2 separate regions of the Homo sapiens genome follow, and region 2 is linked to region 1. The links come from fine-mapping of genetic effects on gene expression. A gene starts in region 1. The other region holds a variant in brackets. All regions are shown on one strand. Distances are between the middles of the regions. Region 1 holds the start of TLK1 (tousled like kinase 1). Region 2 overlaps TLK1 (tousled like kinase 1).

What was found. PIP is the estimated chance that this variant, and not a neighbour inherited with it, causes the effect.
Region 2: its variant is the best candidate, but not a certain one, in a credible set for the expression of TLK1 in whole blood (TOPMed, PIP 0.87).

What each region holds. Positions count from the first base shown.
Region 1 is chr2:171,158,674-171,163,915 of GRCh38, forward strand. TLK1 (tousled like kinase 1) reads right to left here and starts at 2,220. Exons shown (of 21, transcript NM_012290.5): 1 at 1,617-2,220. The coding sequence starts at 1,755. RefSeq lists silencers at 1,391-1,630, 1,901-2,620, 2,751-2,810 and an enhancer at 1,392-2,036.
Region 2 is chr2:171,105,136-171,110,377 of GRCh38, forward strand. The region is part of intron 2 of TLK1 (tousled like kinase 1); the gene reads right to left. Among named protein-coding and RNA genes, the nearest start is that of TLK1, 53 kb to the right of the region's middle. The variant A/T (reference allele first, on the strand shown) is at 2,259.

The sequences.
Region 1 (5,242 bases):
CTAACATTAAACATCTTAATGAAACTACAAACAAAAGTAAAAGCATGCTAAAAGCAAGCATCAACTTCTCTATGAAATACATTTTAAACCGTTCATTTAAAAATTTTCAAGTGCAAAAGAATCACCAGATATACTAAATTTCTAGTCATTTAATAAATAAACTTCTATATTCTAACAATGAAAGCTCAGCGTTGGGATAAGATGAAAGGGGGAAACGTCTGTCAATGTATTCCGCATGTTTAATGGATCCCATAAATCAAAGCTTTCCGTGAATTTTCTAGAGCATATTCATGCCAATCTTTAAGCCTATTGTCACTTTCACACATGCTCACAGGAACAAAATGACAAAGAATGCTATGCCTGAACCACTGGATTCAGGGCACAAAACACTTGATTAACACTTGTCAAGGCTCTGACTAGCAAATATCGACAGATATTTTCAAAATAAAGTACTCGCACCGATTCCTACATAAATCGAAGCTCTTGATTTCTTTAAAACATTCACTAGACGGTTGAACTTCCAGACATTTGAAAATGTGCCTATCTCCTCGTGTGCGACAACTAGGAGTGAACAGCCCGTCTACCAATTGCGGATGAATACCGCTAAGCTTTTTCCAGACTAAAGAGCGTTAAAAGACATTCCATGCACATTTATTCATTCCCCATAAATGTGTTTTCTCCCAAATTTCATTTTATGTTGTATACTTAGATACAGCAAGTTGAAATTTTAGTCAAAAGCACGCCGGTGCCTTACAAGCTGTGTAACTGCTACATCTGGTGGCAGCCCACTTGCTTGCAAGAAGCCAGAAAACTTAGAAAACAATTGTAACCGATTTGGTGCGTGTTTGCAATAACCTTTACGCAGATATTTCCCACAAAACCCACGACCCTGTCACAGAAGAACAGTAGCCTACTTGCAGCAGAGAATATAACGCACAAACACGCAGGAAGCAACGGCGAAGGAGAGAAAGTTGCAACCATCTGGAGGGGCGGTTTTAAAAGCCTGCCCACGAGTCAGTCTGTCGTTTAAATTGCTCTAGGGGGCCACACAGGGGATCAAAGTCTGCCCAGATAATTTCAGCGTCTCTCCCCAAAGGAGAAACCCAGCAAGCGAGGGGCATCCTCCAGGTCCCGGGCAGCAAAGCTCGCAAAGTGGGGACCGCCTCTATGGGAGGAGTGCGCGGGAGAAGGGGAGGGGGCTCGAGGACGAAGGCTCCAGCGGGAGGGAAAACCCACCAGAGACCGGAGGCCAGGAGGTTAAGAGTACTGAGTGTACTGGCAAATGGAGCAGAAAGGGGCTCGCGTCTGGGGGGAGGCTTCCCACCCTCGCAGGACTGGCTCCCAGGAACCCCAGGCGAGTCTATGCGCCTCGCCCCGTCCCCACCAGCGCGCACCCCCTCGTCCGTCTCCTCCGCCACCCGCGAACCACCATCCACAGCCAGGGCACTACCTCCCCAGAGCCGGGGAGCCGGGCGGCCTCGCGTCCACCTCGCCACCATCCCCCACCCCAGGGTCTGGCGGAGAAGCCCCGGGGCGGGGGGGGCGGGGGGGGGGCGCGGGGGTCCGCGGCGCGGGAGAGGAGGCCCGCGAGCGGGCGCGGGCGCGGCGGTGCTTACCTTCCCTGGGCCTCCCGGATGGCGGCGTGTGATTCAGCAGGGACCTGGCCGCCGCCGCCGAGCCCGGGGTTGGAGACGTGGAGAGCTGGGACCAAGATGGCGGCCCCTCCAAACTTCCACTGCTACTTTGGACACTCATCAAGCTACTTTCTGGGAACCCGACTCCCCCCCTGCGACGGCAGCGGCGGCAACGGCACCGGCACCCGCCTCCGTCATGGCGGGGGCCGCGCTGAGGGCGAGCGAGAGAGCGAGGGCTGGGAGGGGAGAGTCAAGGGGATGGGGGAGGAAACCGAGAAGAGGGGAGGTGGGGAGGAAAGAGGTGAGGGAAGGAGAGGGGACAGGGAGGAGGGAAAGGGGGAGAAGCGAGGGAGCGAGCGGGCGCGCCAGAGGAGAGGAGGAGGAAAGGAGCGCGGCGGCGGAGGCGTCGAGGGGGTGCCAGCCGGGCCGGGGTCGGAGCGCGGGCGGAGCGCGGGCTGCGCCGGCCGAGGACACTTCCGCGGGCGGAACCTGCCGGCACCTCTGCAGTGCGTCGGCCCCCGGCGTCGCCCGGGAGGCGGCGGCGGCGGGCTGTGGGTGGCGGCTGAGGCGGTGGGGTAACCTCTGCATCAGTTACAGGCGGCGGCGGCGTCACGCGCCGCCTGTGCAAACACTATCGCGAGGCTCCTGCGCCTCCGGTAGCGGCGGCGGCGGCGGCGGCGGCAGCGGCGGCCGCGGGAGCAGGCTTGGGGGAGGGACCTGCCAGGGGCTGGGGGGTGGGGGCATGGGGAAGGAGCGAGCGCGCGAGGGAAGAGACTAGAGCGCCGGGGCGCCCCTGCCGCACCCGCGGATCGCCGCGCGGCGCGGGAGCCCGGGGTTGCCGGACTCGCGTGCGCGGGGGCAGCGTCCCCGCGCCGGCCGGAGGGAGGCGCGCCCCCGCCGCGCCGCTCGGGCTCCAGCGCCGCTGCCACCTGACTCCCCCTGTCTCCCGCGGAAGCGCGCCTCTCTCCTGACCCACACCCAACACGGGGAGAAATGCTGCTGCTCTCGCTCAGCTGCCGCTTCTCGGGAGTTCAATGTGATCGTTTCTCAAAATGGAACTGAAAAGTTGAGAGTTCCTTCTTTCTTGCCCCTCTGTACTGTGCAGAAAAACGTATGTGCGCCTCCCCGTCTGCAGAATGGGAATAATGACCGAATAAAAGAGCTATGAAAATAAACATGGGTAGTGGGAGAGTTGGGAAATAAAACTTTCTCGTGTTTTCTAAAAAAGAGTGAAGAATCTTTAATGAGGAAATTGAAAATTACCAGTTTTGTAGACTGTATGGTATAGCAATTCTTTGTTTTAAAACAGTAAGTGGAAAATCTAAATGAAAAATGTGATTACTGAATCACATATTTAGGAAAACTATACAGCGTTCATCTTGCAGAAGGTATGGTTTCTAGAAACTTATAATTTGTTTCTAGTGTCTCCGCTGAGTCCCGACTACAAAAATCCCAAAATAAATAACAGCATTTGCTAAAATTTATAGATAGAGTGTAGCTTTCTACAGACCCACACAAGTATACTCACACCAGGGATTGGGCTTCTTGTACATAAAAGAGCACTCTAGTTCAGGAAAAGTACAACAAGGTTATTTCTCTCTTTAGAAAACCAAATTGAATAGAGCACTAAAAAGATTATGATATAGCGCTACTGCACAGACAAGAGGAAATGGCATGATTACCAGGGGGACAAAAATGTCGTTTCTATTTTTTATTTTTATGACTTCGCATTTCTCATAGTAATGTTTTGTTCAGATAAACTATCATACTAGAAAAGAACCTTGATTGTCAGTTATCTCCAGAAGTAATTGTAGTTGCCTTGTGCTTTAGATACTTCAGTGAGTTTTTAGTCTTGTCTGCTTTTCAAACTTAAGAGGGACATCTCACAAACAACTTTATTGAGGTATAATTGACAAAATAAACTGCACATATTTAAAGTGTACAATTATTGGCCAGGTGCGGTGGCTCACGCCTGTAACCCCAGCACTTTGGGAGGCCGAGGTGGGCGGATCACGAGGTCAGGAGTTTGAGACCAGCCTGGCCAACATGGTGAAACCCCATCTCTACTTAAAATACAAAAATTAGCCGGGTGTAGCGGCACGCGCCTGAAGTCCCAGCTACTCGGGAGGCTGAGGCAGGAGAATCGCTTGAACCCGGGAGGCAGAAGTTGCGGTAAGCCTAGATCGCAACGTTGCACTCCAGCCTGGGCGACAGAGCGAGACTCCTAGACTCTGTCTCAAAAAAATAAAAATAAAGTGTACAATTTGATAAGTTTTGATGTGTATACCTCCCTGAAACCACTTCTACAAGGAAGATGGTGAATGTATCTATCACCCTCCAAAGTTTCCTCTTTGTGGTTCCTCCTCCACACTACTTCCATTCTCTCCAACCACAGATCTTTCTGTCATATGGGTAGCTTTCCATTTCATAGAATTTTAGATAAATGCAGGCCATACAGTCAATTTGTACTCTTGTCTGGCTTTGGTTTTGTTTTTTGTTTTTTGTTTTTGAGACAGAGTCTTACTCTGTTTTGCCCAGGCTGGAGTGCCATCTCGGCTCACTGCAGCCTCCGCCTCCCGGGTTCAAATGATTCTCCTGCCTCAACCTCCTGAGTAGCTGGAATTACAGGCACGTGCCACTACATCCAGCTAACTTTGTATTTTTAGTAGAGATGGGGTTTCACCATGTTGGCCAGGCTGGTCTCAATCTCCTGACCTCAGGTGATCCGCCCACCTTGGCCTCCCAAAGTGCTGGGATTACAGGCCTGAGCCACCGTGCCAGGCCTTGTCTGGCTTCTTTCACTCGACATTATTTTTTTGAGAGATTCGTCCACATTGTTGCATTATCAATAGTTTGTTTTTATTTTTAAGTAGTATTACACTGAATGAGTGTACCACACTTGTTTATCCATTAAACTATTGATGGACATTTGCATTGTTTTCACTTTTTGGCTGTTACGAATAATGCTGCTAAGAACATTCATGTACAAGTCTTTCTGTGGACATAGGCTTTCCTTTCCCTTGGATACATACCCAGGATCTTGCCATTCGATTTTTATACCTAAATACATGCACTATAAGAGGAACAGAGTTTCTGTAATGACATGTTGATAAATGTATGCTCTTTCTGTATTTTTAAGAGTAAGCTTAGTCAGCAGATTGCGGTGAAAAGAACATGGGACAGGAAGGAAGTTAAGAGACCTGAGTATTAGTCTCAGCAGGTAACTTGATTCAATTTCCTCATCTACGAGAAAGAGGTTAGAGTCACTGAGTGATTTTTAAAGCTCCTACCAATTCTGAGACTGTACAGAGCTCAGTTCCTCTCAAAAATGGTAAACAAAGCCCAACCAAAAAGGTTTGATGATGGTAGGTTATCTTTCTCCCAACCTTCTCCAGAGCTTCAAGTTTTTAAGTTATCCTTATGCCAATTCATAGTACTTTTTTTTTTTTTAATTGTCACCCAGGCTGGAGTGCAGTGGTGCAATCTTGGCTCACTGCAACCTCTGCTTCCCAGATTCAAGGAAGTCTCATGCCTCAGCCTCCTGAGTAGCTGGGACTGCAGATGCCTATCACAATGCCCGGCTAATTTTTTGTATTTTAGTAGAGATG
Region 2 (5,242 bases), 54 kb before region 1:
AAGCAAAAACAGACAAACTATTATCTCAAACTAAAAAGCTTCTTCACAGCAAAGGAAACAATCATAGAGTGAAGATACAACCTGCAAGAAAGTGATTTGTAAACTATTCATCTGAGAAGGGATTAATATCCAGAATTTACAAGGAACTCAAACAACTCAACAGCAAAACAATAAATAATCCAATCTAAAAATGGGCAAAGACATCTCTTGAAAGAAGTAACCATACAAAAACCATACAAATTTTAACAGGTATATTTAAAAAATGCTTGGCTGGGCGCAGTGGCTCACGCCTGTAATCCCAGCACTTTGGGAGGCTGAGGCGGGTGGATCACTTGAGGTCAGGAGTTTGAGACCAGCCTGGCCAACATGGTGAAACGCCATCTCTACTAAAAATACAAAAATTAGATGAGTGTGGTGGCGTGCGCCTGTAGTCCCAGCTACTCAGGAGGCTGAGGCAGGAGAATCACTTGAAACCAGGAGGCGGAGGCTGCAGTGAGCCCCGAGACTGCGCCAGTGCACTCCAGCCTGGCGACAGAGCGAGACTCCGTCTCGAAAAAAAAAAGACAAAAAATAACAAATACTAGTAAGGATGCAGAGAAAGGGAAACCCTCCTACACTGTTGGTGGAAGTGCGAATTAGTATAGCCATTATGGAAAAAAATATGGAGGCTCCTTAAAAAAAAAGATACAACTACCATATGATCCAGCAATCCTACTACTGGGTATACACAAAGGAAAGGAAATCAGTATGCTGAAGAGATATCTGCATTCCCATGTTTACTGTAACATGATTCATAATAGCTGAAGTATGGAATCAATGTAAGTGTCCATCAACAGACAAATGGATAAAGAAAATGTGGTATACATACACAATGGAATACTATTTCACCATTAAAAAAATTTCTCTCATTCACAGCAACACTGATGAGCTTGGAGGACATTGTTAAGTGAAATTAGCCAGGCACAGAAAGATAAATACTGCATGTTCTCACTCATATGCAGAAACCAAAAAGGCTGATCTTGTAAGTAGACAGCAGAATAGAGGCAGGGAAGAGTAGGCGGGAGGGGACAGCCAACAGTTGATTAATGAATATAGAAGTACAGCTGCATAGGAAGAGTAAGTCCTGGTGTTCTATAGCACTATAGGAAGACTATAATTAACAACAATTTATTGTATATCTTCAAATAACTGGAAGAGCAGATTTCGAATGTTCCTATCACAAAGAAATGATAAATGTTTGAGGTGACAAATATGCTAATTACCCTGATCTGATCATTATGCATTGTCTCTACATGTAATATCACACTGTACTCCATAAATATGTACAATTACTCTATCAATTAAAAACAATAAAAGCAGAAAAACAAAAAATGAAGGTTGTATGTACAGTATCTGTTGCTTGTGCTTACTTCCTTGCTGCTGGCAAATATACTGCTCTATTTTTCTCTAGAAATAAATCAATACTCCTAGATAATGTATTTACCTTTCTACCCGACCCTCTCTGCTAGAGCACCGTTGCTACCAGCAATTTGATCCTTAGAATGTTTTTACTTCCAAATTACAAACTCTTGATGCTACTATCATTAAAATTTGCCTACCTATTAATACTGCATCTCACAAGCACATTATCATCATCACTCTAAACATTACAGGAGTCATTGGTCACAACTGTCATACATTCTGTAGCTTCACCTATATTTTAAAATTACAACTTAAAAGACAAAAGAGTAAAACCAACATTAATTCAGTATCTTCATCCAACATATACCTGTACTTGAATTTTCCCTATTGTCACAAAAACGTCCTTTATAACTGTTTTCCTCCAGTCCAGGTGCAAATCAGGATTCAGATTCACACATTACATCTGATTGCTATGTCTTGTCTCTTTAGCCTCATCCAATCTACAACAATTCCATTTACCTCTCTTTGTTCTTCAAGACACTGAATACTTTGATGAGTCCAGGCCAGTTGTCTAGCAGTGTCCCAGGAGTATTGTCTCATGACTAAATTCAAATCAAATATTTCCAGCATTAAAAACAGAGGTGATTTGTGTAACTCCTACTGCACCACCTTAGGAGGCACATACAATGTCAGATTCTCTGAGATAATATGCCAATGAAAAGTCTGATCTTGCTTATTATGGTGGTGAGAAATGGTGTCCATTTTAGACACATTTCTCTTTTGTAATAACTAATCTATGGGGTAAAACATTAGGACTCTGTAAGTATACTGCTCTTGAAAACATTTTACTAAATGTA[A/T]ATGTCCAATGGAAAACATATGATCCTTGCCTTAATCAATAATTATATTGGGGATGTCAAATGGTGAGTGTTCTGATTCTACATTAGCTGGCATTCTTCTAAGAGACTATTATGTATTATAACAACAAGCATAACTAGCACCTAGATGTTGGTTCCTAAGCACCATTCTTCATTAAAATGAACCAGGAATCCTTGGAGAATGTCTGTTCATATTCAATGCAGAAAAGGACGAGGGAAGCCAGAAATGTCTTGTGTCTGAAAACCAAAGACTGATAAAAGATCTCTAAAGTGACCATGCGAAGGAGTTTCCACTGGCCAAATTTGGGACAATTTGAATTTCAAAGACAATAATGAATTATAACAACAGAATAAAAAAAGGAGCTGGCCAGGCGCAGTGGCTCAGGCCTGTAATTCCACCATTCTGGGAGGCCGACGTGGGCGAACTGCTTGAGCCCAGGAGTTAAATGCCAGCCTGGGCAACATGGTGAGACTCATCTCTAAAAAAAATACAAAAAACTTAGCCAGGCATGGTGGCACTTGCCTATCCAAGCTACTCAGGAGGCTTACGCATGAGGATCACTTGAGCCTAGGAGGCAGAGGCTGCAGTGAGCCGAGATTGCGTCACCGTACTCCAGCCTGGGTGACAGAGTGAGACCCCTCTCTCAAAAAAAAAACAACAACAACAACAACAACAAAAAAACAGGAGCCAGGAGACCACAGCAATACCAGAGAGACACAGTAAAGATGTACATGAACACAAATTAAGCAAAACTGTTTACACCTTTTAAATCTAGATGAAGAATATGATGGCATTCTTTATACTACATTTTCAACTTATCTATAGGTATAGATTATTTTCAAAGTAAAAAGTAATACAAATTTTAAGGGGAACAAACCCACAGGAATGCAGTTTGAGAGAGCATTTTTAGTGTTATAATGACACTCTATACTCATATACTATACACTACACTGAGTATACTGTCATTATAACACTACAATAGAATATGTAACTTTAAAACATCAGGAAAAAAATTCATTTGTCCAATGGAAAACACGTAAAGTACAAGAAGACATTAAGCAATAGATGGCAGAACTGAGTCAGAAAATAACAATAATTACAAAAAATGTAATAAACAAAACTCACCATTTAAGAGAGTCGAATGCTCCTATTGTATCAAAAAACATATGCTGTCTACAAGAAATGCATTTAATTTTTTTTTTTTTAAATGAGACAGGGTCTCACTCTGTCGTCCAGGCTGGAGTGAAGTAGCATGATCTCAGCTCACTGCAGCCTCAACCTCCTGAGCTCAAGTAATCCTCCCAACTCAGCCTCCCAAGAAGCTGGGACCACAGGTGGGTACCACCACGCCCGGCTAATGTTTTGTAGAGATAGGGTTTCATCATGTTGCCCAGGCTGGTCTCGAACTCCTGGGCTCAAGTGATCCACCTGCCCCCGCCTCCCAAAGTGCTGGGATTACAGGCATGAGCCACTACTCCCAGCCCCAAGAAACACATTTAAAAAGAGCAAAAATAAAATAGAAAACCATATACCTAAAACAAACATAAACCAAAAGAAAGCTAAAATTAACAGTAAGTAGTATACAGTCACAAAAAGAATAGAACAAGAGATACACATGTAAAAATACTGCCTCAAAATATATCAAGCAAAAACAAATGAACAGCAAGTAGAAATACATAAATCATCAGTTAAATATTTTAATACATCTCTCTCAGAAAAAGATACGCCAAGTTGACAATGCAAGGAGATATCTAAGATCTGAACAAATACAATTAACAGCTATTAGATATGAAATGTTTCTAAAATAAGGCACATTCAGGGACTGATGTCAGGGACTGATGTCATACAAACTACTTTCCAACTGTAATGCAACAGATTGAAAATCCACAACAAAAAGATAGCTCAAAATATCCTATATTAATAACCCTTGTGTTAAAAAGGAAACAAAGGTAATTATGAAATATACAGATCTGAACATTAATTAAAACAGCACCCATCAAAACTTATGGAACAGTTACAGCAGTTCCTGGAGGGACAGCATTAATCAAGAAACAAGAAAAGTTAAAATAAACGAGCTGATATTACTTCACACCCACTACACTAAAATGAAAAAGAATCACAACAAAATGTCAGGGAGGATGCAGAACAATCAAAGTTCTTATACAGGTACAAACACTTTGGAAATCTGGCAGTTTCTTACCAAGTAAAATATACATCTATCCAGCTAAGTATCTTCCCAAGAGAAATTAAAACATGTTACCAAAACATTTGTACCAAAATGTTTATTGTAACCTTACTCCTAACAGGCAAAATGAAAACATCCAAATACCACTCTACTAAATGCATAACTGTGGTATATCCATACAGTGGAATTCTATTCAGCAACAAAAAGAATTAACTACTAAAACAGCAACAACCTGGATAAATCTCAAAAACACTACATTAAATAAAGGATGCCAGATACAAAAGAATATACTGCATACTTTCATTTACTGTATATGGAATCCAAGTACAGGCAGAACTAATCTGTAGTGACAGAAATTAGATAAGGGTTGGGGGAAAGGGTTTGACAAGAGGGAACTGACTGGAAAGGGGCAGAAGAAAACTCTCTGGAGGGATGGAAGTGTTCTATATTTTGTTTTGTGTGGTATTTACACTGAACAATTTCCAAATCTAAGAGGGGGGAATACGTGAATGGTTATAATACCTTTATTCCTAATTATCAAAACACTGGAAACAACACAAATGTTCCTCATCTAGAAAATGGACTAAAAAGGCCAGGTGTGGTGGCTCATGCCTGTAATGCCAGCACTTTGGGAAGCCAAGGCAGGTGGATTACTTGAAGTCAGGAGTTCAGACCAGCCTGACCAACAGGGTGAAACCCCTTCACTACTAAAAATACAAAAATTAGCTGGGCATGGTGGCACATGCCTGTAATCCCAGCTACTCGGGAGGCTGAGGCAGA